Linked DNA regions of Homo sapiens: all the other regions are linked to region 1. Evidence: fine-mapped expression QTL. A gene starts in region 1. Each other region holds a variant in brackets. All regions are shown on one strand. Distances are between the middles of the regions.

Region 1 (5,157 bases):
ATCTGCTTCCTCCCAAAGATGTGAATCATGCCTCCTTTAATCTCTATATTCCCAATAACTTGTAAATAATGGAGTCTCAATAAATGCTTGGCTAAGGCTAAGTTATAATGACATGAGTAAAACAGGAGAGACTAAATAAAGATTTGATGGGTGTGAGAAGCAGGATAGAAGATTCCTGCTAGGTGTCCAAAGCAATTGTATTTGGCTGACATCTGAATGAACAAGACCCACCAGCAACTGCATCTAACTCACTGGACAGCCCTGAGAAAGTCACCTCAATTCTGAATCTGAATTTGTAAAAGGAAGATATTGGCGCAAACCAGAAGTTGCAGGCCTTTCAGTGGAAAGAAGGTGGCTGTTATTACACTGAAACCTGGAGAGTGCATCTTTGCTGCCCTGGTAAGGGGTACCGGCTTCCCCTTAAGCTGTGCTTCCAAACAAATTATAGAGAGGAGAACATACAGCTGGTATGGCCACCAAAATAAGGACCTTTGAGGCTTGTGAACAAAACAGATGCGCTTGTGTGTGGCAGGTAAGGAGACAGGGGTTTGGAGCAGGAGCAGCAGAGACCAGTGGTAATAAGTTATACAGATCTCAGAGGTGAGACAACAGATAGCCCAAGGAAAGAATGGAAGGGATGGAACAGATATCTATGTTTGCAAGGTGGTTCTCATGTCTGGCATGTACACACCCAGGCACCAAGACACACAATAAGTCAGGGAGAAGTAGATTTTACACAACCTAAAAACTTTAATACTAATTTAACAGCTGTTAGAGCAATAATAATCCATTAGCAAGATCACCTGTAACCTTTGAAAAGCTTGTTTATTTACCATATTTACAGAGTGCCATCAGACTATATTTTGAGATTCTGACAAGTTTCCATTTAGGATCACAGAAAGACCTGACATTTCGGCTTGGCATGGGAAATTATGTAATTTCCCATGCCAAGCTGAATTCCCCAACATTACAGGAAAACCCACAAACCCTGCAGAAGGGAGTGAAAAGCCAATCCAGTCAAAGGAAATCTTCCAGTTCTACAAAAGAAAACAAAAAAACAAATACCACAAAGAGCAATGAATCATTTCTAGTGAATAACTTTTCACTCCATCTTCAATAATGTCATCCTGAAGCCCCTGAAAACTATTAAATTACATATTCTATATTCCTGGTGATATCACTGCCTAAAATTACACAACTTAAAGCAGTGAGGGAGCTGACGACTGGTAAGAAATCTTCAAGGACGTAAAAGGCCAGAAAAAAATCATGTGTTTGAAAATGCCTGCGAAATAATAAACGCCTGAGGGAACTTGATGGCTTTGCTGCTTCTAAGCTAAATAAAGCCTGGGGGGCTTTGCAAAGGTCCTAGTGAGGATAATCTCCATGATTACACAGAGCAAACATCCAATCAATTCCACATGAACCCAGGAAAGTTAATCCAAGAAGAACACCACCACTTAAAATATTGAGAAAAACACACAGTTCTTATTGTTTAAATGCTCCATCAGCGCTGGAGAACGTATCAGGTCATTCTAACAAGTCAGAACACTTGACTAGTGTTTCTGTGACAATGATTTGGCTTGTGTTAACTAAAGGGCAACAAGAAGTTTGCGTTCCAAAGCTCAGGCCTAAAACAGGTCCAATCCCCGACTGCCAGCAGTCTCCCTACTTCCTGCACACCTTTGGATTATTGCACACCGACTTCCTGCACACACCTGGGTTTGAGACACCTTCCCCGAGGGGTTACTCTAGCTAAGTTCCCGAGGCAAGCTTGAAAGAAGTTCGCTGTACCCCTACTCTCGGTCAAAGCACCATCAGCACATGTCGCTTGACAAGTTCGGCGGCAATGGAGTGATCAATTTACATAAACAACTCTGAAGAGATAACGCATCACTGCAAGGAGAGAAAGTCAGCAGGACGACTGTGCCCGCTCCGGGAAAGGCGGCTGCAAGGCTGGCCCGCGGGCAGAGCCTCCGCTGACGTTCACCGCAGCTCCCACCACGCAACAGGTCCACGTAGGCAAGGCCCGGGCGGCCGGCATCTGGGCACCTGCCCCTAGCGCTCCAGGCCCAGCTCTCCCCTGCGCCCATCTCGCGTCCACCCCCGCAGCCACCGCAGGCCAGCCGGCCAAGCCCACCCGCGATAAAGCACGGAGCACATTCCTCATTCCTCCCAAGATGCCGAGATAGTGCGGCCCGCTTGAGCGCTGCCCAGGTCACAAGGTCCTCCGGGACATGCCTTGACTAAAGGAGAGGCGCGCCCGGCCCTTGGTGGGGGAACGACCCCGGGGAGTGGAGGGGGGGAGGATGCAGTGCTCTGTAGCTTCCAGATGGAAACAGCCCGAATCACCCGGCTTCTCACCTGACCGGGCACAAGTGCCAGGTGTCAGTACCTAGCATGGATCTAAGTTACTTAACAGTCCAGAACGCTTCTCCAATAGCACGAGCCCCAGTGACTACGCGCAAAATATCCGGTCACTTTGAATAAAATGAAAAGGAACTTTTACTGGGAAAGGATGGAAGTAAAGAGACAGGGGGAGAAAGAAGCAGGTGAATGCATAAAAGAGGGAAGGTTCCTTCACGCCGGACCCGGAGATGGAAGAGGGGACGAGAGAGGATGGGAGCGGAAGGGACAGCAGACGAGCGGGCAGAGCGCTCAGGTGAGGCCGGACCCTTACCTCGGGCAGCTCGCGGAGCTGGTTGGCGTCCAGCAGCAGCTCCTCCAGGCTCCGGGCATAGCGGTAGATCTCCTCGGGGACGTAGACCAGCGAGCAGTGGCGCTTGTCGATGCTCTCCACATGACGGTTGCACCGCCACAGGGGGATGCAGTGGAACATCGCCGCCCCCGCCGCCGCCTAGCCGGGTCCCGAGCGGCGGAGACCCGGGCTCCGAGCCCGCTCTGGCCGGCGGCTCCGCTCAGTCCGCTGCCCTCTCCGCGCTCGTTGTTGGCTCTTGGGTTAGCTCGCTTCTCGCGCCGGGCTTCGCGGTCGGAAGTGCTTCAAGGAACCTGGAGCGGGAGCCCCTGCCCCGTCCCTGTACCCCCGCCCGCCAGCCGGTGCCTCCACTCCCACCCGCCAGTCGCCGTCGCCGCCCCCGCCGCCGCGCGGAGCTTCCTACTCGCAGCCGCCGCGCGGACTGAGCATGCGCGCCAGTGGGTGCGCGCCGAGGGCGTTTCCCGGCCCGAGGGATGCTCCGCTCCGGGTTTTCCCGGCGACCTGCATCCAGAGAGGGTCGACTGACCTGCGGGCCGGCTGCTGGCGGTCTGCTTACTCCGGCAAAGACGGGGGCGCATCGGGCCGTTTGAGGAAGGCAGACTGTGAAAGGACTTGGGACAAAGATGAGGCGGAGTAGAGGCGGCCTGAGCAGAGCAGAACAACTTTGATATTTAGTTTTATTTAACTCGCACTCCTCTCCTTGCTCCCCTTCCCCAAAACAACTTTCTCTTCCGGGGTCACACAGGACCGCCCCAAAGCGTACCTTGCGCGCCGGGGGCGCCAGGCGCTACTGGATTCGGTGTAGTTTTGAGGTGTTTGCACCACCCTCGCTGCTGCTTTCGTGGCTGCCCGTGTGCCCGCTGCTCACGGCTGCCCCAGAAGTGTGAGCTGGCCGCGCCCGGCCCTCTGGTCCTCGGGCACCGCCTGCAGGCTTTGTAACTTGGGAGCACATCTCTGGTGATCATGGTTTATGCAGTGAGTGATAGTAAATCCTCCTCCCTGTACCAGCAAAGGCATAGGAGTCTGAGAGTCTGCGAGATTCTCATAGATGTGGTTGCACCTGGCAAGGAGCCCAGCTGCAGAAATAAGCAGGCAAACGCGAGTTTCTGAGCCAGTTCCAGCCCGGCCCAGATGTTGGCCCCTGACAACTAGCTGTGGCTGGTGCGGAGGGAGGAGCGAGGGAAGAGGGGCAGATCGAGGCTGCCAGGTGAGCATCCTCCATACAGCTCCTGCTTTTCTGCTACAACCCCAGTCCCGTCCAGCCCGGATGACCGGGGAGGCTCACTATTGGGTTATAACAACCATTCCCTCGCCCCGACTCATTCCTGCGGACCACGGCCGGAATCCTGAACTGCCCCTCTTTGCCTGTAACTGTTTGCAACACAGTCCCCATCTCCGAATAACCAAATTTTCTCCTTTAATGAAGGGTTGCTAAAGTCAAGGTCAATCACAATGATGAATCATTTCCTTGGGGGCTTCTCTGATTCCCCACCCGGCCGCCCCTTCGTTCCACACTTTCCCTTTCAAGCATACTCAAACTCCAGGTTTCCACCTGCGGCCGCTGCCACGCTGGCTCTCCCACACTCACTCCCGCCCTCCAGCTGCTATAGCTAAAATCTGGAGCCACGGAGTTCACTTTTCTATAGAAGACAAAGCTGAGCATGCTCAGTGGCCAAGGCAAAGTTTGGTCGGAAACTAGTTTTTGCATTAGACTCTCCATGGGCTCCATAGACTCTCCTGTACCTTACGACTAGGCACAGGAGCGTTTCCCCGGTGAAATGGAGAAGAGGACACTTGGTCTTTTCAACTTTACTAGGAGGGCTCCTTTCTTCCCAGTCCGTAAGGAGGGGTCTGACTTTCATTTCCACCCCAGCATTATCACCTTAACTCTCATTCCAGTCAATCCCGAAACTCCGTTGCCCTACCCACTTCACCCTTCTTTTGTTTGTCCTGATTTGATTCCTGCGTTCTCACAGAGGGCTACCTGGACTTTGAACCTCCACCCCCCTTTCTACATTCTTGCATTCCAGAAACATATGAAGCTCATTTCTGCCACCCTTCCTAGAAAACTGGTTCCTGACAGAGACATGTGGAAAGGTAAGTAAGTCCCTGTCTTCAAGTTTTCCAACTGCTTTTTAAAAAAAAAATTAAAGAAGGCTAGTTCCCTCCATTTAAAATAATGTGATTTCCAGAGGTTATCACACTAGATTATTTTAACGAACACCAAATGTATTTTAAAGACGTGTCCAGTCTTTTAAAAATTCAGACCTCAATAAGCATTCCTTGTGTGCCTCTCCATGATGCTTCAGCTTCTCTGTGTTATTATTTTTGTATCACCTTAATCCGAAAGAGATTATGACCTCTTAAACAACAGATACTGTCTCACTTGCTTTGTAGATCTGGGAAGCTGCCACAGTGCCATATGCACAGTCAATGATCAACAG
Region 2 (5,000 bases), 120 kb before region 1:
TGTATGAGTCTGGTCTTCAAAAAGGAACATAAACACACAAAAAAATCCAATGATTCTCTTGAACAAATTGGCGGTGGTTTTTACAGTCAGGAAAACTGAATCAAGAGGGCAGAAAAATAGCTTGATCCCAGACACAACATTCTGCAGGACTCCATAAAGTACTACATTCTTCTTGTACTCACTCTCCTGACTAAGGGCAATTGCTAGAAAAGGCTCATGAAGGAACCTATTGATGTCTCTCCAACACATGGAAAAATACTACTCCAGAGCCTCCCACTTGTGAAAGAGCACAAGACTTGAATGGTCAATGATATCTGAATATATCTTCTGCCCTTTTCTATTTATACATGTGTTTAATATATGTATAAAATATCTTCAAAAGCAGAATGCATATTTTTGTGAATGGCTACATAATTACTTTCATACATAATCTTTTTATTTCCTCCCTTAAAAATATAAAGATTTCAAAATAATGTATTGAACCACAATATTTAACCATAATGTATATAAAAGAAAAATAAATATATAAGTAAATGTAGACTAACATTTGTCTCTGGTCATGTGGAAAGCACCCAGATATGTAGAAAGGCTTTTAGATTACTCCCTTTAGTCTCCGCATTCACATATTTCTCATCCCAGCAAAAATGGTCTAGTCATTATACCCTAAATACATTTTTATATTTTTGATCCCATTGTTTTTTATAGAAATGCCTTTTTAAATCTTACCAATGATCCAAAATTAGCTAAACATCGTCTATTCCTCCATTGAGTCTTCACAGAACGCTTTGGTCCATATAATAACACGCATTTCATAATTACGGTCTAACCCTCTGACAGCACAAAATACCACATGAAGAACCCTAAGATCATTTACCTGAGTTACAGCTTATTTGCACATGTTTATGTACACTCAAGGTACTTGGCAAGTATAGTATTCACGCTATCTACCCACCATGCATAGCCTCTCTGCCCACTAAATTTCTCATTTACATATGTTTATACACTTTATTTACTTACTTGTGAAAGACCTCTACTTAAAAGTTATCTGCCTCTATGTGTAGCAGTGGAGACAACAAAACTCTTTTTTGTTCCAGTAAGAATCACCAGAGTAGCCTTTCTTAGGTTTTAGAAACATCAAGCCCCAATATAGTGTGGATTTCCCATATGGCTGAGCATATTCTCCCTCCCTTGAGGAAGGGAATCAACAATTCTACCTAGGTGCCCAGAAATATCATGGAAGGAAAGCAATCAAAACCCTGATCCTTTTGATGATCAATATTATTAGAGTCTCTGATAAATTTAGACAATCCTGACAAAGATCTACTCATGAGAAAGAATGACTAGGTTCCCATGGGGCACCCTTGCCGCATCCCTGCTCCAGGTGGAGGAGCTTCGGTGTCAGGCTGGGGTTCAGAGGTACGGCTGCATGCCCTGAAGGAGAGCTTCCAAGTCAGCAGTTGGCTGAGGCTGAAGACCCCCGCTAGCGTCCTGATCTAGCTTTGAAGAGACAGGATTTATGTGTGACCCAAGGGGGGCAAAGCAGATATTATCATTCATATGATCGTCCGGATGGGATAATCAGCTCCTGGAAGACATACAGAGCTGGGACTGCATTTTAATTCTGGGCATCTTGTCTTGAAGCTGTCCACTGCCCTCCCACCACACCAACCTGTAAGATATCTGTTTTGGGGCCCTACTGCTATACCATGTGAACATTTTCAATTTGTATCATATGCATATATTATGTAGTCAAAAAAATTAATTAATTAAAGTGGGTCAGAGAAGGCTCTAAATAAATGTTCTGGACAAGATCCATTAATCATTTGGGAACATATTGTGTAAACTTCAATGAAGTGTGTGAGCTGTCTACTGTGTGTTATTGTTTCATTTTTCTTTTTCCTTTCCCACTCTAATCTCACACCCATTTGAGAC[G/A]TCAAGGGGTGGAAAGCAATTGCGTACAAGAGCCTCTTAGGCCCTCTGGGTTGTCAAAGCAGGCAGTGTGACCTCCTGATCTCTATTGTCTATGGTTTATGAAAAACAATGCCAACAAAGAGCACATGTTGTTGCAGAGTGTGCTAGGGATGCCTTAATCACCCCACAAAGGCACATGCTGTCCCAGCGAACATTCACATAAACACAGCCCTCTTTCCAAATCAGCCAGGAAGGGATGGCACAACCTTTGGTTTTTAGAAAAGATTATTAAGCATTCAAACCCATAACTGAAAAGATATAGTTCATTATAGACGTCAGAGGGAGATGCGGTATGATGGAGGGAGCGGATGCTTTGAGACCATACAGACCTGGGCTAGAATTTAGGCTCAGTCATATGTTTTGTGGTTTTGGATATGTTACTTTAACCAAAAGTAACAATAATGATTAACTTAAATGAAACCACATATATAATTTGGCGCCTATCATAGAAACTGGCCTTTTGCTGTTGCCAAATAAATGTGGTAGCTATTTTTTTTTCCAGGAAATAAAAACCTCAGATCCAAATGATGAGTACAATCAACACCTGAATACCTACTATGTTCTTAGAACTGTACTGATGCTGGCAGTCTCTTTCCTGAACTTACCCGAATGTCTTAAAAAACCCATCTCCCTAACGATGTATCGCAGTGACATTTTGTATTAATAATAATGAAGACTGACATTATACACATCATTCATATATATTTTGGCTTTCTCTTTTGGGTTCAGGAGGCAGAGTTTACAGGTTTCTCAGTGGTAATCAGGATAAAATGTATCACTTAGAAGTTCTGGGAAGCAGAGTCACTGTTTAAATAACTTATTACCAGTTATGTAGGAAGCTGATATTTTTAAGCTTCCCTTAAACCACATAATAGCACCTTCCCAGAATACAAGGGGTTGGACTTGGATTCTCTGAGAATTATGGAATATAGCTGAGAATCTTTGTCCAGCCATTTTGTGTCTCTCTTAATTCAAAATGATACTCTCCTTAGCTGTTATGCACTGATTTAACCCATCTCAAGAAAATAGGTTCTGCAGATTATTGAGCAAACCTCTGCTCAGGTCAACTTTCACTAGGTATTAATTGCCTGCAGGTTAGCTCACCCAAGGAGGAGATCATGAGACAGATTCAGTGATTCAAAAAGGGAGCCTATGTTAGTCACGTCTGTTTATCTTCCATTTTTTAAATGCTTGCCTTAAGTATAAGGGAACTTTCACTTTCCTTCAGTATATTCCTTTTAATATTATTTGTAACATAATTGAACACACACCCCATTGGCAAAAAAAGAAAAGTGTACAATAAGTAAAATCTGGCCAAAACGCAATTTGAACAAAAATAATATGAAGCATAATTTTAGAATCCCATCATCTATGGCATATTATTCAAATGTTCCCTACTTCATAAATATTTTTGGCAATTGTGTGGCTTTGGGATTCCCTGAATTCTGAGGCCACTGACATCAAAATATCCACTAATAGCTACGGAATTCTTTTTTTTTTTTCTGATTATAAAAAAGTACCTTACATTGATTAGAAAAATAAAAACTAAACATACATGCACAGGAAAGCACAATGAAAAAAAATCAAATCTTACCACAAAGGGATAATCAGTATTAACATTATGAGGTACAATCTTCCAGTACCACTGCCTTGCATTTGTGATTATACATACACACTTTAACAATGCTTCTAAGAGGACTTTTATGGACCACATAGTTATTTCCTTCTATGGATGTATCACAGATTATTTAAGAAACTGCCCAGGTTAGACAATGCTAGTTAGGTCTGCCACTTCTTTGCTGTGTGACTCTGGACAAGTGACTTAACCTCTCTCAGTCTTAGTTTCACAATCTGTTGGACATTGAAAATGGTTTACCTATACCTCATAGAACTGTTGTGATAATTAGATAAGAATAAGTGCAAAAGCCCTTGGCACCATGCCTGGCACATGTTAGCTGCCTCTGTGGACACTTGGTATGGTGCCTGCTCCCATGTATAATGTGAGAAATGTTCTTGTACATCATTCTTAGTGTATATCCATAAATGTTTTCCTAGACGTGGAATTGCAGAATCAAAGGGTACGCACATTTCTAAAGTTTTTACTATTATCATATTCCCTTCCAGAAAGTCATAATAATTTATATTTACATGATAATATATATTTCCCTCCACCCTTGCCAAAATTTGGCATTATTAAATTTTTTTGTGAATACTGATGAGGCTGAAATTGTTTCACATTAGTTGCCATTTCTATTTGTTCTTGTGTGAATCACTTGCTGGTTTTTGTGGAAGTTTCTTTTTGTCTACTTCTCTATAGTAAATACATCTTTTCCTTATTGGTGTAGAAGAACTTCTAATAGAGTAAAGACAGATCTCTCATTTAAGATGCCTTAAATGTCTCCCTGCCCCCTTTCAAGAAAGTAAAGGCTGCTTTTACCTTCTTGAAGATCAGAAATCGAATTTTCCTGTAGACAATCCATCAACTATTTTTTATGACTTATTTCAAGTTTAGGAATTACTTCTCCATCTTGAAATTTGATGGTCAACTATATTTTATCTAATATTTTTATATTCTATATCATGTCTTTAATCAATAATTCATTTTAGAATACAACGGAAACTTATACTGAAAGAATTTTGAATTGCAATAATAAGAAGGCAGAAAAACTATCCACAAAATGAATATTCTATCACCACAGGCATTTCTGAGTATCATAGTAATATTTATGGGTAATTAATATTTACAGGTTGCCTGACTGAAAAAAGCTTTGATGAATGATCTGCAAATGCTATGTTGCCTCATCTGACTGGGTAAGTGTGGCTTAGTTGGCGTCTCTTTCATTTGGACTTAATGGAGACAAAAAGAAAACAGGACCCTAAACTTGGATATAAGCTCAATTTCTTCTAGCCAAAAACTCTTTATGGTCTGGCTCTCATTCATCATACTCATGCTCACACATATACCACCAACTCCATCTATCCATGAATCAATCATACTACTGCACAATATGTTCCTTAACTCTCCTCTC
Region 3 (5,178 bases), 23 kb after region 1:
TCATTCATTTCATCTTCCATCACTGATACCCTTTCTTCCAGTTGATCGAATCAGCTACTGAGCCTTGTGCACTTGTCACGTAGTTCTCGTGCCTTGGTTTTCAGCTCCATCAGGTCCTTTAAGGACTTCTCTGCATTGGTTATTCTCATTAGCCATTTGTCTAATTTTTTTTCAAGGTTTTTAACTTCTTTGCCATGGGTTTGAACTTCCTCCTTTAGCTTGGAGTAGTTTGATCATCTGAAGCCTTCTTCTCTCAACTAGTCAAAGTCATTCTCCGTCCAGTTTTGTTCCATTGCTGGTGAGGAGCTGCATTCCTTTGGAGGAGGAGAGGCACTCTGATTTTTAGAGTTTCCAGTTTTTCTGCTCTGTTTTTTCCCCATCTTTGTGGTTTTATCTACCTTTGGTCTTTGATGATGGTGACGTGCAGATGAGGTTTTGGTGTGGATGTCCTTTCTGTTTGTGAGTTTTCCTTCTAACAGTCAGGACCCTCAGCTGCAGGTCTGTTGGAGTTTGCTGGAAGTCTACTCCAGACCCTGTTTGCCTGGGTATCAGCAGTGGAGGCTGCAGAACAGCAGATATTGGTGAACAGCAAATGTTGCTGCCTGATCGTTCCTGTGGAAGTTTTGTCTCAGAGGAGTACCTGGCCATGTGAGGTGTCAGTCTGCCCCCACTGGGGAGTGCCTCCCAGTTAGGCTACTCGGGGGTCAGGTACCCACTTGAGGAGGCAGTCTGTCCGTTCTCAGATCTCCAGCTGCGTGCTGGGAGAACCACTACTCTCTTCAAAGCTGTCAGACAGGGACATTTAAGTCTGCAGAGGATTCTGCTGCCTTTTGTTTGGCTATGCCCTGCCCCCAGAGGTGGAGTCTGCAGAGGCAGGCAGGCCTCCTTGAGCTGTGGTGGGCTCCACCCAGTTCGAGCTTCCCGGCTGCTTCGTTTACCTACTCAAGCCTTGGCAATGGCAGGCGCCCCTCCCCAAGCTGTGCTGCCGCCTTGCAGTTTGATCTCAGACTGCTGTGCTAGCAATGAGCGAGGCTCCTTGGGTGTAGGACCCTCCGAGCCATGTGCGGGATATAATCTCCTGGTGTGCAGTTTGCTAAGACTGTTGGAAAAGTGCAGTATTAAGGTGGGAGTGACCCAATTTACCAGGTGCCATCAGTCACCACTTTCTTTGACTAGGAAAGGGAATTCCCTGACCCCTTGCGCTACCCGGGTGAGGCAATGCCTCGCCCTGCTTCGGCTCACGTTTGGTGCACTGCACCCACTGTCCTGCACCCACTTTCCAACACTCCCCATTGAGATGAACCTGGTACCTCAGTTGGAAATGCAGAAATCACCCGTCTTCTGCGTCGCTCACGCTGGGAGCTGTAGACTGGAGCTGTTCCTATTCGGCCATCTGATACCAGTTTTAATCTTTCTGAGACATGCTGTATCACAAGAATTGGGGGAAAATTACATTAAAAGTACAAAGTCAAATTCATTTACCTCAGAATATATATTCATCTGTCCATAGTCCCTTATCTTCCTTTTTATGTATATTCATCTGGCTCCTTATTTCTTTCTACTGAGAAAGAATGATGCAAAAGCAGAATTTGTTGAGGATGGAAAGTTATAGATACTCTATTTCTCTAATAAAATGGATTCTCAGTAATTCATAGAAATAGAAGAACATGAACTATCATACCTCTATTGTTGGATCTAATATATATATATATATATGTATATAACCTGCTTGGAGATATATATATATACACAGTATATTTAATAATTGTAAAATATTAAATTATTTTTACAATTTAATTTAATTTAAAAAACTAAAAAATAATTGTAAAATAAAAATTTAATTTAATTTAAAAAATTAAAAAATAATTGTAAAATAAAAATTTAATGTATATTTAAATATGTTTTGCTACTTATATCTTACATACTTTAGTAGTTATATAATCTTTATTATCAACCTGAATGGATATAAATATCAAACTTGATCAATTTCATCCCCTTTAGGGGATGCAGCTAGGCATCTAGTTGCAACTAGAAGCTAATGCAACCAGGCAGTGCCATAACTAAAGGCAGCCAGCAAGAGAAAGGGGAAAAAAGAGAGAAGATAAGTCATAGGCAGGACATTTTGCTCTGGGGAGATAATTGGAGCACACTGTGGCTTAGTTGGGAATAACAAACAAGTTGCCCTTTCAGTAAGGGCTGAAAGTGGTATTTTTATTTCTCCATGACTTTCTACCTGACCTTTGGTGCTCCCTGAGGAAGGAAGCTGGGTGTGTGTGTGTCTACAGACCAAAGAAAAGAAAGTGTAAAATGTACCAAGGGGACAGCCTTAGAAGAAATAGTTTTTAAAAAAATGAATCAAAGAAAAAATGTAGTTTTACATAGAATAGGAATGGAAAGATAGTATGATAACTTCTAAGTCTATGCAAAAGAAATCATTATCACCATTATCATTATTTTTTAGATTGTGTTGAA[C/AC]TCTATTACTGGTATAGCATGTTACCCAGTTTAGTAATATTTATGGTCTCAAGGTGAGTAAGTCAGTCCCTTTTATAAAGGCAAGACTAAGTTTTCTATAAAAGGTAATGAGATGATGGCCAGGCATGGTGGCTCACGCCTGTAACCCCGGCTCTTTGGAAGGCCGGGGTGGATCACCTGAGGTCAGGAGTTCAAGAGCAGCCTGGCCAACATGGTGAAAACCCGTCTCTACTAAAAGTACAAAAATTAGCTGGATATGGTGGCATGTGCCTGTAATCCTAACTACTGGGGAGGCTCAGGCACAAGAATCGCTTAAACCCAGGAGGCGGAGGCTGCAGTGAGCCGAGATCATGCCACTGCACTCCAGGCTGGGCAACAGAGTGAGACTCTGTCTCAAAAAAAAAAGAGGTTATAAAATGAGGTTGGCTGGCTCATAATCCTCAGGTTAGCTCTGTAAGACTATTTAAACCATGTGGTATAGGCAGACTCTAAAATGGTCCCAGTGATCTCCACCTCTTGGTATTTGTGCTCTTGTAGTATTCCCTCCCCTTGAGTGTTGGCCAGACTTATTGACTCACTTCTAATGAATAAAATACAGTAAGAGTCATGGGCTGTCACTCTCAAGATCAAATTATAAAAAGGCTATGGTTTCCATCTTGGGTGCTGTCTCTCACTCTCTCTTGGGTTGCTTGCTCTGGGGAAAGCCAGCTGCCATGTCCTGAGATAGCCCTATAGAGAAGCCCACAGGAGTAAGCTTAGAGCAGATTGTTATAATCTGGGTATGGTTTGCTTGTCCCCACCAAGTCTCATGTTGAAATTTGATCCCCAGTGTTGGAGATGGGGCTTGGCAGAAGGTGTTTGGATTGTAGGAGCAAATCCCTTAGGAGATGGGGCTTGGCAGAAGGTGTTTGGATTGTAGGAGCAAATCCCTTATGAATGGCTTTGTGCCATTCTCACAGGAGTGAGAGAATTCTCACTGTTAGTTCCCACAGAACTGATTGTTGAAAAGAGCCTGGCACCTCCTCTGTCTCACTTTCTGTCTCCCCGTGTGATTTGCACACATTGGCTCCTCTTCCCCTTCCTCCATGAGTGAAAGCAGCTTGAGGCCCTCAACAGATGCAGAGCCATGAGCCAAAAACAAACAAACAAACAAAAAACTTTTATTTATAAATTACCCAGCTTCAGTTATTCCTTTATAGCAAAAATGGACTAAGACACAGATCTCCTAAAGCATCTCAGCAGCAATGTCAGTGAACTTGGAAGCAAATTTTCCCCCCAGTTGAGCCTTGAGATGACTGTAGCTCCGGCTGACATTTTGACTGTAACCTCATAAGAGATCAACCTAAAACTACCCAGCTAAGATGGTCCCAGATCTCTGGCCCAGAGAAAATTTGAGATAATAAGTGTTTGTGTTTTAAGCTGCTAAGTTTGGGTAATTTGTTGAGCAGTAATAGAAAACTAATGCAAACCATAGTAGGTAACATGTAATATAGCTGAAATGCTGTGTAAGATGTAGTGGGAGAATCAGAGTCAAGGTGGGCAGGAGAGAGATGAAAAGTACTCACTGAGCACCTATGTTGTCTGAGACACTATGCCAGGCCCTTTACAGACATATCTTAGCTTATTCCTATTACACCACTACACGAGTATCATTATCTTCATGCTACACATGAGTATGCTAAGATTCAGAAGGGTTAAATAATTTCCCCATCATGACACAGCTAGTAAGTAGCAGATGCCAGCTTTTGAACTCTGGTCTGTCTAAACCTGAAGCTCCTACTTCTATTACAACCCTGATTGCAATGAAAAGGGAATCAAATAGTTTATAACACTGGTAATGAGTGAAAATGTACCCAGCTGAACTTTTCAGATGCATACCAAACATTTTATGTGATAAGAGCTGAAGTAGTGTATGAGCAGAGTGCTATAGGAGTGTGAAGAAAGCAACATCTCATTCTGCTCGTAATGTGTGAGGGGATGGAGGAGAAACCCCACAGAGAGAATTATACTGGAAATTAGCAATTCAGCTTCCCTGTTACCCCTGGGAGAAGTCAAGATCTGGAATCAGATTGACATGAGTTCAGACCAGTTACCAGCTCTGTGGCCTGGGCAAGTTACTTCTTGCACCATCCTTTTCTTATCTGTACTGATTATGTTAGGCAATGCACATAATTGCTTGGCGGAGTCAGGTATATAGCGAGCACTTAATAGACATTCACAGTCAATAATACTATTGTTACTGTTTTCTCTCCAAAATTGATTCTCTTGATAAATGTGTAATTACTAACACTATTTTTTAATGTTCATCACTCAGTGATATTTTTTAGGGGAGGAACAAATATTCCCCTATTATAATTAGGCAAAAGTTGAGGGAAAAAAAAAGGAGACAGAGAATATAAGAAAAGGAAAAAGGGGTAAAAACAAAAGTTCAGTGTTTGTTAGATAAGATTGTCTGAGGCAAATGAACAGGCCTGGGAGCGGAGGCAGGGAAAGAGTCTAGCATGTGGACTTTCTGTAGAGAGCAAAGACTGTATATTTTATTCATATTCAGGTTGCCAAGAACAGTATCAGATTCACAATCATTCATTGAAAATCCAATGAACTCATTCATTCTTCCATTCAGCAAATATTAACTAAAATCCACTATGTGCTATCATGCTTCCATGAGGGTAGCATTGCAGAGCTTATGTTCTAACAAGGCAAGAC
Region 4 (5,178 bases), 140 kb before region 1:
CCTACATGTCCTATTTACAAACCCAGTCTTCCTCTTGTCATTGCCCTTTTTCACCCCATCAACAACCACAAACACCTATTACATCTAATTTTTCTTTACCTTCCTCCCACTCTCATCCAAGCTAATGGGTTTCCTCCAACACAGCTTCTTACAGGTTAAACTATAAATTTGATGCTAATCAACTGGTAAGAAACTTCCTAGAAACTTCCTTACTCATTACAGAGGAAGGTGTGTCAAAAGCATAAGGGTTCAAGCTGCAAGACATGACCTGTTAATGAGTTGTGAAATTAATTTATTTGGTTTTGATTAGCACTAAAAATAATGAAATTGGAAATATCAGAGTTCCTTATATACAGTTAAGGAAAAAGCACTATGTTGGGAAACTTTAGTTTCAGCTATGTACATGTATGTGTTTACTGGGTTACTACGTGACAGGTTCCTTCAAGAAAGTTGAGTTGCAGTCAGAAAAGTTAGAAAAGCACTGAGGTAGAAATTTCTAGAAAGAGGGAGCATTCCACAGAGTCAAATGCAGCAGACAGGTCTAGAAAGGTAAGAGGTGAATCAGTGTCCATCAGATGTGGCCCCACAGAGGTCTGCTGACCTGGCTAGAGCAGTTCCACCATGCTGTGTATGGGAGCCAGACTTCTCACGGTAGTGCATGGAAACTTAGAAGCAGGGAGAACAAGAATAGACCTGTTTTAAGAACCTTGGCAGAGAAGAGTAAGGAAGACTATGATGGAGGGGACTTAAGAGTCTATTTCTCAGGGACTCAAAAGTTAAAAGTAAAGCAAAAAGTAAATTGGTCTTTAGAGTAAGTCTTCACGTAGTAATCAAAAAACAATTTTCCTATTTGCCAATTCAATTTTCTATTCCTAATTCAAAAATTGTAATGAAAACACTTGAGACAATTAAAGTTGAGTAAAAGTAGCCACAAGGATTTAGAAACAATGCCTATCAGGGCTGGGTGCAGTGGCTCTAGGTTTTTGACCTAGGTGATCAAGGTTTTTTGCTCATTTAGAGTGGTATCTAAACATGTTTATAGAAGCTGCTGAGATATGGGATAAAATGGATCATCAATGGAGCAAACTCTAAGAGAAAAAGGATCGGAGAGTGGCTGGAAGAGCTAGCTGTGATGAGGAAGTGAGGTCTGGGAGAGGACAGAGTCCAGCAAAGGCATTCTGTGGGTGAGGGTAGCAGGGAATAAAAACTGGCAATTCGCTCCTGAAAGCCTTTATTTCCTCCATAAAATAAGGCTGACATTCAGTATCTAAATGTGCTGCCTTGGCCATTTTTAAAATATTGCATCTCTTCCTATAGGATGCTGGTTTCAGTCATGGAGTCTACACATCATGCAGTGATGTTGCTTAGCCAGGCATACAGCCCATCCTTCAAGAAAATTGAATAGAAATGTAAGATAACAGTAGGGTCCCCAAACATAATAGCATTGGGACTCAAGAGAGTGTTGAGGGTGTGCTATAGCTCCTGAGCAGCCTGAGAAGGGGGTGACCCCAGGCATTTGTTGCAAAGCATCCCAGAGTTGGCAGAGCAAGTGGCAGGGCAGGTCATGCTGTTGGTAGGGAACAAGGAACAGGCTCTCTGAGTTCTGCCCATTTGGAAAGCCAGGGTGTCCAGACTGGTGTCTGGCTGTGATAACCAGGCGACACATCCAACGCCGTCTGGTGGCAAAAGATAGCAGGTTGCACCTATTGACTAGAGGCAGAAACCCCTGCAAACTGTCTATAAAGGGTCAAATAATCAATATTTTTGGCTTTGAGTGCCATTTGGTCTCTGCACATTTAAAAAGGGACATAGTCATGTTCCAAGAAAACTTTATTTATAAAAACAGGCAATGGGTTATAGTTTAAGAGCCCCTGGACTTGAGTATTTTAATAGGAATGCTATCAAAAAAGTCTGATGTTCCCAAAGCAAATGGTGGCCCAGGGAAGGGCATCATTTAGATAGCAGCCACCTACATTAAATAAGCCCTAAAGATGCAAAAATTTTGCATATATGATATGCATAATTATGCAATATGATAAATGATTAGAACTACTACTCAGATCTCTAGAGAAGTAGTTTTATGATACACATAATATTGCTTTATATGACAAAAAAGGGACAGTTTCTAAAATGTGTGTATTGGTCTACATATTACCATATATTTCCATACCAGTTACCTATTTTCAGGATCATCCTTAGTATGACAACGGGATAATGCATTTGGAGAGAGTCATTAAACCTTGGAACAGTTGAATAAGGCAACTTGTTTCCTAAGGACACTAAAATGATTGTGATGCTACATGAAGAATACAGATGAGGTTGGAGATCCTGAGCTTCGGTGTTTCCCAATCTGAAATACCAAGATTGGAAGATTTCTTCCAAAAGCCCAGGTATAAGGACAGATTGTGGGTTGGAAGATTTGTGACCTGAATGTCAGGCACAGATCTGGTTCCTGCTCACTGAGAGTCCATGGTGTGTGGGCTGATACGCCACCAGGCAAGTCAGGAAGTGTTAATATATTCTAGCCACATCTGGCCATCCACATTTTCAGTCTTCCCCTTAGGCACTCACCCAGAGGCAAACATGCTTTCTACTTCCGTTAGCACTTCCTCTACTCCTATTAGCTTGTATAGATTGGCAAGAAGAGCCTAAAGGTCAACACATGGCTAAGACCAGATGCTCTTATGCCTCCCCATATGGAGCAAATATGATGCGTTTCAGGATAGCAAAAAGAGTGGTAATTGCTGAAAACCTTCTATGTGCTCTGTCATCTAATTCTCTAGAAAGTCTTGAAGTAAGTATTATTCCCATTTTACAGACGAGTTCACTAAGACTTGGGGAAATTAAGAAAAACCTCTCAAGGTCACAACATTAAGTAAGTGCCATAGCTGGATTTAAATCTGCTTAACTCCAAAGCTCCTGCTCCTTCCAGCACACTAGAGCAGTG[G/TGG]TTCTCTAAGTATGTTCCCTGAACCAGTAGCAGCAGCAGCACCTCAGAACATGTTAGAGGTGCAAATTCTTAGGCCCCACCCCAGACCTATGGAATCAGACTCTGAGAGTGGGGTCCAGCAATCTGCTTTAACACTGCCACCAGGGGGTTCTGATGCATGCTCAAGTTTGGAAACTACTGCACAATACAGCCTTCAAGAAAAAGATACTACAGTAGGTTCCAGGTCTACACATCATGCAGTGATGTTGTAGGTTCCAGGTTACATGACAGTGAGCAAGACAGGGTCAGCCACACTGAGCAGCCCTGGACAAACCTAAGGAGCTAAGGATAGAGACAGCTCTTCTCTACCTGTATGCCTGACTGAGCAACATCACTGCATGATGTGGTTTTTCTGCCCCCAACATTGTACCAGTTCTTTAAAGAGCAAGTAGCTATGATACCGGAAAAGAACCATATCAGAGCTTCACATTTGGTTGTCAACATCATTTCTTCTAACAACCTAACTGCTACATGGATTTGCTGTCCTTGAGATGTGGAATGAAAAGGTTAGGTAATTTACCAAGGGTCAAGTGACCACAGGTGACAAACCCTGGGTTTCCCAAGGACTGCTGCTACCCAGGTCCCAGGGGCACACCCCCTTTACCTGCTGGCAGGCATCAAGACGAAGACAGGCAGCCATTGTTGGGGAGGGAGTCGACATCAAGCTGGTATCTCATCTAGCTCGTGACTTTTCTATACTGAGCACCTTCCAGGTGTCCAGGTGAGAACACAACATGGATAAGGCTTACTTTACATCTGTCAGAGCCCTGGCAAATGCCTTCCCGAGTGCCTCTGGCATTCTCTGTGAGAAAGAGAGCCACAGCCTGACAACTCCCATAGCCATCAATGGCAACGCTCCTGACCCTCAAGACATTCCAAAAGGATTAAAACCAAGAGCAACCCCAACCTAACAGACCCAGCCCATAGCGTCTTCTCGAAACTTCCCAAACTCACACCGAAACTTGCCCCACCCATTCCGCCTCTGGGCCAATGGGCAGGACCAAAATTCAGGAAGAACATTCAATGCCCAGACAAGTAACCATGTTGTTTTGTTTTTCCAAGCAGTGCTGAGCGAGGTTTAAACAAACAAGCACTCACACCTGCAGCCAAGGAAGGGCAAGAAGCAGCAGCCAGGTGTGGGAACATGAACGCCAGACACTCGGGATCCAGACAGTCTCCCAGGAGAGCCCATTTCCAGTGAATACTTTCTTCAGGTGCTCAGTGAAGCGCAGTCCCATGGGGAGCCTGGGCAACTGTTGGCAAGCTACTTTTTTAAAGCAGTAAGACTTCATTTATGACTTACCTTGAGAAAGCATCAAAAGAGAGGCATTTGCAGACTCTGCATTTACAGGGCATCAGGTGTGGGGTGTCACTCTATTACACCCTGTTACAAGCCTGGTTTCTTGCTATGGGAAGACTCCATAGGACCTTCTGTTCCTATCACCAGGGTGGTGGAGCCAGTTTCAAATAAAATTAAACATTGCTTAGTCACACAAGTTTTCTATTCTTCCTGTTTTCTGCTTCTTTGATTAAATTAGTCCCTAAAGGAGCAATCATTATTTGTCAAATCTTTCACAACAACACATTATAAAAGGAGGACTTTAAATAATAAATTATGACTCATCTTCCTCATTTCCCCCAAATGGCACAAAGGTCAAGTTGCAGCACCATAGATTTCCCAGTGTTCATTATCTGTCTTTTCTCCAAGGGTAGGCTATTAAAGGTAGTGAGTATTAAAAGTCATTCCTAACTAATTAGCTCACTCTGGAGCTACCTGCCAATTTTCAGAATATGCTGAAGCTTTCTCAGAGAGCCAATTACCAAACTGTCACTCCAGTTAATGTTAAAAACGTTATCAATTTTTTTTTTCCCACTAGCCAAATACTTTATCTCACAAGTTTCTTAGGATTTGCACATAGTTTGAGATGGTAGAACAAAGACCCCATGAACATTTCCACAGCCCTTAGCCCAGGACAACATACAAGAAGTGAGTGAAGGTGGTGGGAGGGTTAGAGCAGCTGTTCCAAATCTTTTTGGCACCAGGGACCAGTTTCATGGAAAATGATTTTTCCATGGACCAGTGAGGGAGGGTGGCTTCAGGATGATTTAAGTGCATTACACTTATCATGCACTTTATTTCTATTGTTATTACATTATAATATGTAATAAAACAATTATACAAGTCATCATAA
Region 5 (5,000 bases), 81 kb before region 1:
ATCCTGTTTTGTACACTTCACTGTGCTGCACCTTATCCCTACAACATACTTTGAGGTTTCTATCAATAGAATAGTACGCCTTTCATTGTACAGGGCTATTTATAAAGAAATATCTGTGAAAGTCAACCATCCTTGATAAAGACAGTGATCCATCTAGGTACCTCCAAGATGGTTAACCTGACTGTGTTCTCCGCTTGGCTCTCAAAAAAGATACTCTTACTAGTATAGACAGAAAAGTAAGCAGAAAGCTTACCTAGTCAGTGGGTTTCCGCTGAAGTCAGCTACCTGCAGTGCTTTACAGAATGAAATGCTTTCTGGAATTTCAGGAATCTCTGCAGGAGTAGAGAAAATGTCTATAATTTGCCACCATTATTAACAGTTTTCATCACTCTCAAGATGGATCACACTCACAAGAGAATATCTGGAAATTCCTACCTCCATTCAAACATGACCTAGACTTATAAAGTATTTTAATATATTTATATTTGCTTTCCTAATATAAGTTATATTCTCAACAGAAGCACATTAAAGAAAAATAATAAAAACATCAAATCTCTGACAAAATTATAGCTATAGGAGTAAGTTCTAGTGTTCTATGGCAGGGGTCCCCAATCCCTGAGCTACAAACCAGTACCTGTGAGGAACCGGGATGCACAGCAGGAGGTGAGCGGCAGGCGGGTGAGCAAAGCTTCATCCATATTTACAGCCACTCCCCATCACTTGCATTACTGCCTGAGCTCCACCTACTGTCAGATCAGCGCCCACATTAGATTCTCATAAGAGCATGAGCCCTATTGTCAACTGCCCATGCGAGGGATCTAGGTTGTGTGCTCCTTATGAGAATCTAATGCCTGATGATCTGTTTCCCATCACCCCCAGATGGGACTGTCCAGTTGCAGGAAAACAAGCTCAGGGCTCCCATTGAATCTACCTTATGGTGAGTTGTATAATTATTTCATTATATATTACAATGTAATAATAATAGAAATAAAGTGCACAGTAAATGTAATGAGCTTCATTTGTCCCAGAACCATTCCCAACACTGGTCTGTGGAAAAACTGCTCATATGATTTGGTTGTGTCCCCACCCAAATCTCATCTTGAATTCCCATGTGTTGTGGGAGGGACCCAGTAGGAGGTAATTGAATCATGGGGGCAGGTCTTTCCTGTGCTGTTCTCATGATAGTAAGTTTCACGAGACCTGATGGTTATTATAAGGGGGAGTTTTCCTGCACAAGCTCTCTTTGCCTGTCGTCATCCACATAAGATGTGACTCCCTCCTCCTTGCCTTCCACCGTGATTGTGAGGCCTCCCTAGCCATGTGGAACTGTAAGTCCATTAAACCTCTTTCTTTTGTATGTCTTTATCAGCAGCATGAAAACAGACTAACAGAGTAAACTGGTACCAGTAGAGTGGGTTGCTGCTGAAAAGATACCCAAAAATGTGGAAGCAACTTTGGAACCGGTTCACAGGCGGAGGCTGGAGCAGTCTGGAGGGCTCAGAAGACAGGAAAACGTGGGAAAGTTTGGAACTTCCTAGAGATTTGTTGAATGGCTTTGACCAAAAGCCTGATAGCAATATGGATAATAAAGTTCAGGCTGAGGTGGGAGATGAGGAACTTGTTGGGAACTGGAGCAAAGGTGACTTGTTATGTTTTAGCAAAGAGACTGGCAGCATTTTGCCCCTACCCTAGAGATTTGTGGAACTTTGAACTTGAGAGAGATGATATAGGTATCTGGTGAAAGAAATTTCTAAGCAGCAAAACATTCAAGAGGTGACTTGGGTGCTGTTAAAGGCATTCAGTTTATAAGGGAAGCAGAGCATAAAATTTGGGAAATTTACAGGCTGACAACATGATAGAAAAAAAAACATTTTCTGAGGAGAAATTCAAGCTGGCTGAAGAAACTTGCATAAGTAACGAGAAGCTGAATGTTAATCCCTGAGACAATGACAAAAATGTCTCCAGGGCATGTTCAAAGGTCTTCATGGCAGCCCCTCCTATCACAGGCCCAGAGGCCTAGGAGAAAATTGTTTCCTGGGCCCGGTCCAGGGTCCCCATGTTGTGTGCAGTCTAGGGACCTGGTGCCCTGCATCCCAGCCACTCCAGCTCTGACTAAAAGGGGCCAAAGTATAGCTTGGGCTGTTGCTTCAGAGGGTGGAAGCCCCAAACCTTGGCAGCTTCCACATAGTGTTGAGCTTGCGGGTACACAGAAATCAAGAATTGAGGTTTGGGAACCT[C/T]TGGCTAGATTTCAGAAGATGTATGGAAATGCCTGGATGCCCAGGCAAAAGTTTGCTTCAGGGGCAAGGCCCTCGTGGGAAACCTCTGCTAGGGCAGTACAGAAAGGAAATGAGGGGTTGGAGCACCCACACAGAATCCCTACTGGGGCAGTGCCTAGTGGAACTGCGAGAAGAGGGCCGTTATTCTCCAGACCCCAGAATGGTAGATCCACCAACAGATAGCACTGTGCACCTGGAAAAGCCACCAGACAGTCAAGGCCAGCCCGTGAAAGCAGCCAGGTAAGGGGTTATACCCTGCAAAGTCACAGGGGCAGAGCTGTCCAAGACCGTGGGAACATACCTCTTACATCAGCATGACCTGGATGTGAGACATGGAGTCAAAGGAGATCATTTTGGAGCTTTAAGATTTGACCGCCCTGCTGGATTTCAGACTTGTATGGGGCCTGCAGCTCCTTTGTTTTGGCCAATGTCTCCCATTTGGAATGGCTGTATTTATTCAATGCCTGCACTGCCATTGTATCTAGGAAGTAACTAACTTGCTTTTGATTTTACAGGCTCATAGATGGAAGGGACTTGCCTTGTCTTGGATAAGATTTGGACTGTGGACTTTTGAGTTAATGCTGAAATGAGTTAAGAGTTTGGGGGATTGTTGGGAAGGCATGATTGGTTTTGAAATGTGAGGACATGAGATTTGGGAGGGGCCAGGGGCAGAATGATATGGTTTGGCTGTGTCCCCATCCAAATCTCATCTTGAATTCCCATGTGTTGTGGGAGGGACCCGGTAGGAGGTAACTGAATCATGGGGGCAGGTCTTTCTGAGCTGTTCTCATGACAGTAAGTAAGTCTCACAAGATCTGATAGTTATTATAAGGGGGAGTTTCCCTGCACAAGCTCTCTTTGCCTGCCACCATCCACATAAGATGTGACTTGCTCCCCCTTGTCTTCCACCATGATTGTGAGGCCTCCCTAGTCAGATGGAACTGTGAGTCAAATTAAACCCCCTTCTGTCTTAAATTGCCCAGTCTCGGATATGTCTTTACCAGCAGTGTGAAAATGGACTAATACAACTGTCTTCCACAAAACCGGTCCGTGGTGCCAAAAAAAGTTGAGAACTGCTGTTGTATAGCACTGTAAGATGACTACAGTTAACAATAATATATAGTTTCAAATGGGTGAAAGGAGGATATAGAAAGTTCCTAACACAAAGAAATGATAAATGCTTTAGATGAGTATGCTAATTACCTTGTAATTACACAGTACATTATATGTATCAAAGCATCACTATGTACCCATACATATGTACAATTATTTAACAAATCATTTAAATAATAAAATAACAAAAACCGCCACTACCACCATCAAGTCCCATCACTCTATCAAAAGCACTGATGGCATTCTGTTGTAATTACCTTTAGACTTTCTTTTCCTTATATTTTCATGTGGTGGTATCAGTACCAGGTATTCCAAAGTAGTGCACTTTTAAATTACGATTTTTTTCCTGATTACAAACATAAATATTTGTAAAATATACAAAGAAGAAAATAAACACCACCAACACTCTCATCACCTAGAGGTAATCTTTTATTGTGATTTTTTTTTTTACTTGTCACACACACACGTGTGCACACACATATACACACAGAATATGTGTATAAATAGATTATATTTCACAATACTAAGTTCATGATAATTTGTTTTTTGCACCTTACATTACTTTACAAGCTTTTTTCTCTTATCATTATTTCTCCAAGTAGTTTGCTGTTCTTAATGGCAGAAAAGCACATTGTATATATTTTCATATTTCATTTAATCAATCCTCCATTGTTGGGCATTTAGGTTGTTTCAAAGTTCCTGATGTTATATGTATGTGCATTCCTGATTATTTCCTTAGGCTATGTTCCCAGAAGTAGAATTACTGTGTCAAAGGCATTAACATCTCTACAGAGCTTGAAAAATATTGTTAAATTGCTTTTGCGAGCAGCAACTTATGCCCACTTATACTTTCATCAGCCTGTACAAGATGCCGTATTCAACATCTCTCCTCCTCTTTTCTTTCTTTTACATTTTAAAAAATGCCAATTGTATTGCTAAAATAGTATGGCAACATTTTATTTTGTATTCTTTTTATGACTATTGCAGCTGAACATTTTCCCCCATATTTACTGGCCTTTAAATACTGTGATTTTTAAAAGACCAAAGTTGCTATTTTAAATTCCTTTCTTGATAGAAAACTTGAGATTATAGCTTTTAGGCCTTTAAAAGGTTAGTCTGCAGCATTTAACTTCAAAAATTCATTTATTTTGGACATATTAACATTGAGAATGGCTAAAATAGAAAGATTTCTCCTGGTTCTTGCTGTTTCTTCCACCAGTCTGACTCATTCAATCTGAGCCAAAACATACTTAATATTTCTAAATTGTGGGTGATAGGGAAAAGGGAGAATTAAAGAAAAAATGGATGTCTTGCTCCAACAACCTCACAATAATCAGATGCTACATGAAAGATTTTAGTTCAAATTTAAAAGTGTAAAACATTTGGATCTATGCTAACATTTTCCTCACACTATTTTCTGCCTTGCATGGTCAAATGAGGTAGTGAAAAACAAACACTATGGTCCTAGTTTATATAAATATAATCGCTTATTTATGAAAGTAATAGCATAAATATAATAGCTTATTTGTGAAAGTAGGACCATAGTGTTTGTTTTTCACTAATATTATATATATATCATATATATATAGCTGTCAAATCTATAGTTGAATC

The links. PIP is the estimated chance that this variant, and not a neighbour inherited with it, causes the effect.
Region 2: its variant is the best candidate, but not a certain one, in a credible set for the expression of LRRC1 in subcutaneous fat (GTEx, PIP 0.57).
Region 3: its variant is the best candidate, but not a certain one, in a credible set for the expression of LRRC1 in whole blood (INTERVAL, PIP 0.83).
Region 4: its variant is the best candidate, but not a certain one, in a credible set for the expression of LRRC1 in fibroblasts (GTEx, PIP 0.82).
Region 5: its variant is the best candidate, but not a certain one, in a credible set for the expression of LRRC1 in T cells (TOPMed, PIP 0.70).

The regions. Positions count from the first base shown.
Region 1 is chr6:53,792,936-53,798,092 of GRCh38, reverse strand. It overlaps LRRC1 (leucine rich repeat containing 1), which reads right to left and starts at 3,088. Exons shown (of 14, transcript NM_018214.5): 1 at 2,678-3,088. The coding sequence starts at 2,836. It overlaps LOC124901333 (a long non-coding RNA gene), which reads left to right and starts at 4,418. Exons shown (of 5, transcript XR_007059619.1): 1 at 4,418-4,552; 2 at 4,744-4,810. RefSeq lists an enhancer at 2,304-3,016 and silencers at 2,983-3,222, 4,268-4,397.
Region 2 is chr6:53,908,083-53,913,082 of GRCh38, reverse strand. All of the region lies in intron 10 of LRRC1 (leucine rich repeat containing 1), which reads right to left. Among named protein-coding and RNA genes, the nearest start is that of MLIP-IT1, 88 kb to the left of the region's middle. The variant G/A (reference allele first, on the strand shown) is at 1,933.
Region 3 is chr6:53,770,259-53,775,436 of GRCh38, reverse strand. It overlaps LOC124901334 (a long non-coding RNA gene), which reads right to left. Exons shown (of 3, transcript XR_007059620.1): 3 at 1,338-1,424. The region is part of intron 2 of LOC124901333 (a long non-coding RNA gene); the gene reads left to right. Among named protein-coding and RNA genes, the nearest start is that of LRRC1, 22 kb to the left of the region's middle. The variant C/AC (reference allele first, on the strand shown) is at 2,473.
Region 4 is chr6:53,928,690-53,933,867 of GRCh38, reverse strand. It overlaps LOC101927189 (a long non-coding RNA gene), which reads right to left and starts at 3,886. Exons shown (of 4, transcript NR_125842.1): 1 at 3,591-3,886. RefSeq lists a silencer at 4,483-4,777. The variant G/TGG (reference allele first, on the strand shown) is at 2,948.
Region 5 is chr6:53,874,325-53,879,324 of GRCh38, reverse strand. LRRC1 (leucine rich repeat containing 1) reads right to left here. Exons shown (of 14, transcript NM_018214.5): 3 at 254-332. Among named protein-coding and RNA genes, the nearest start is that of LRRC1, 82 kb to the right of the region's middle. The variant C/T (reference allele first, on the strand shown) is at 2,238.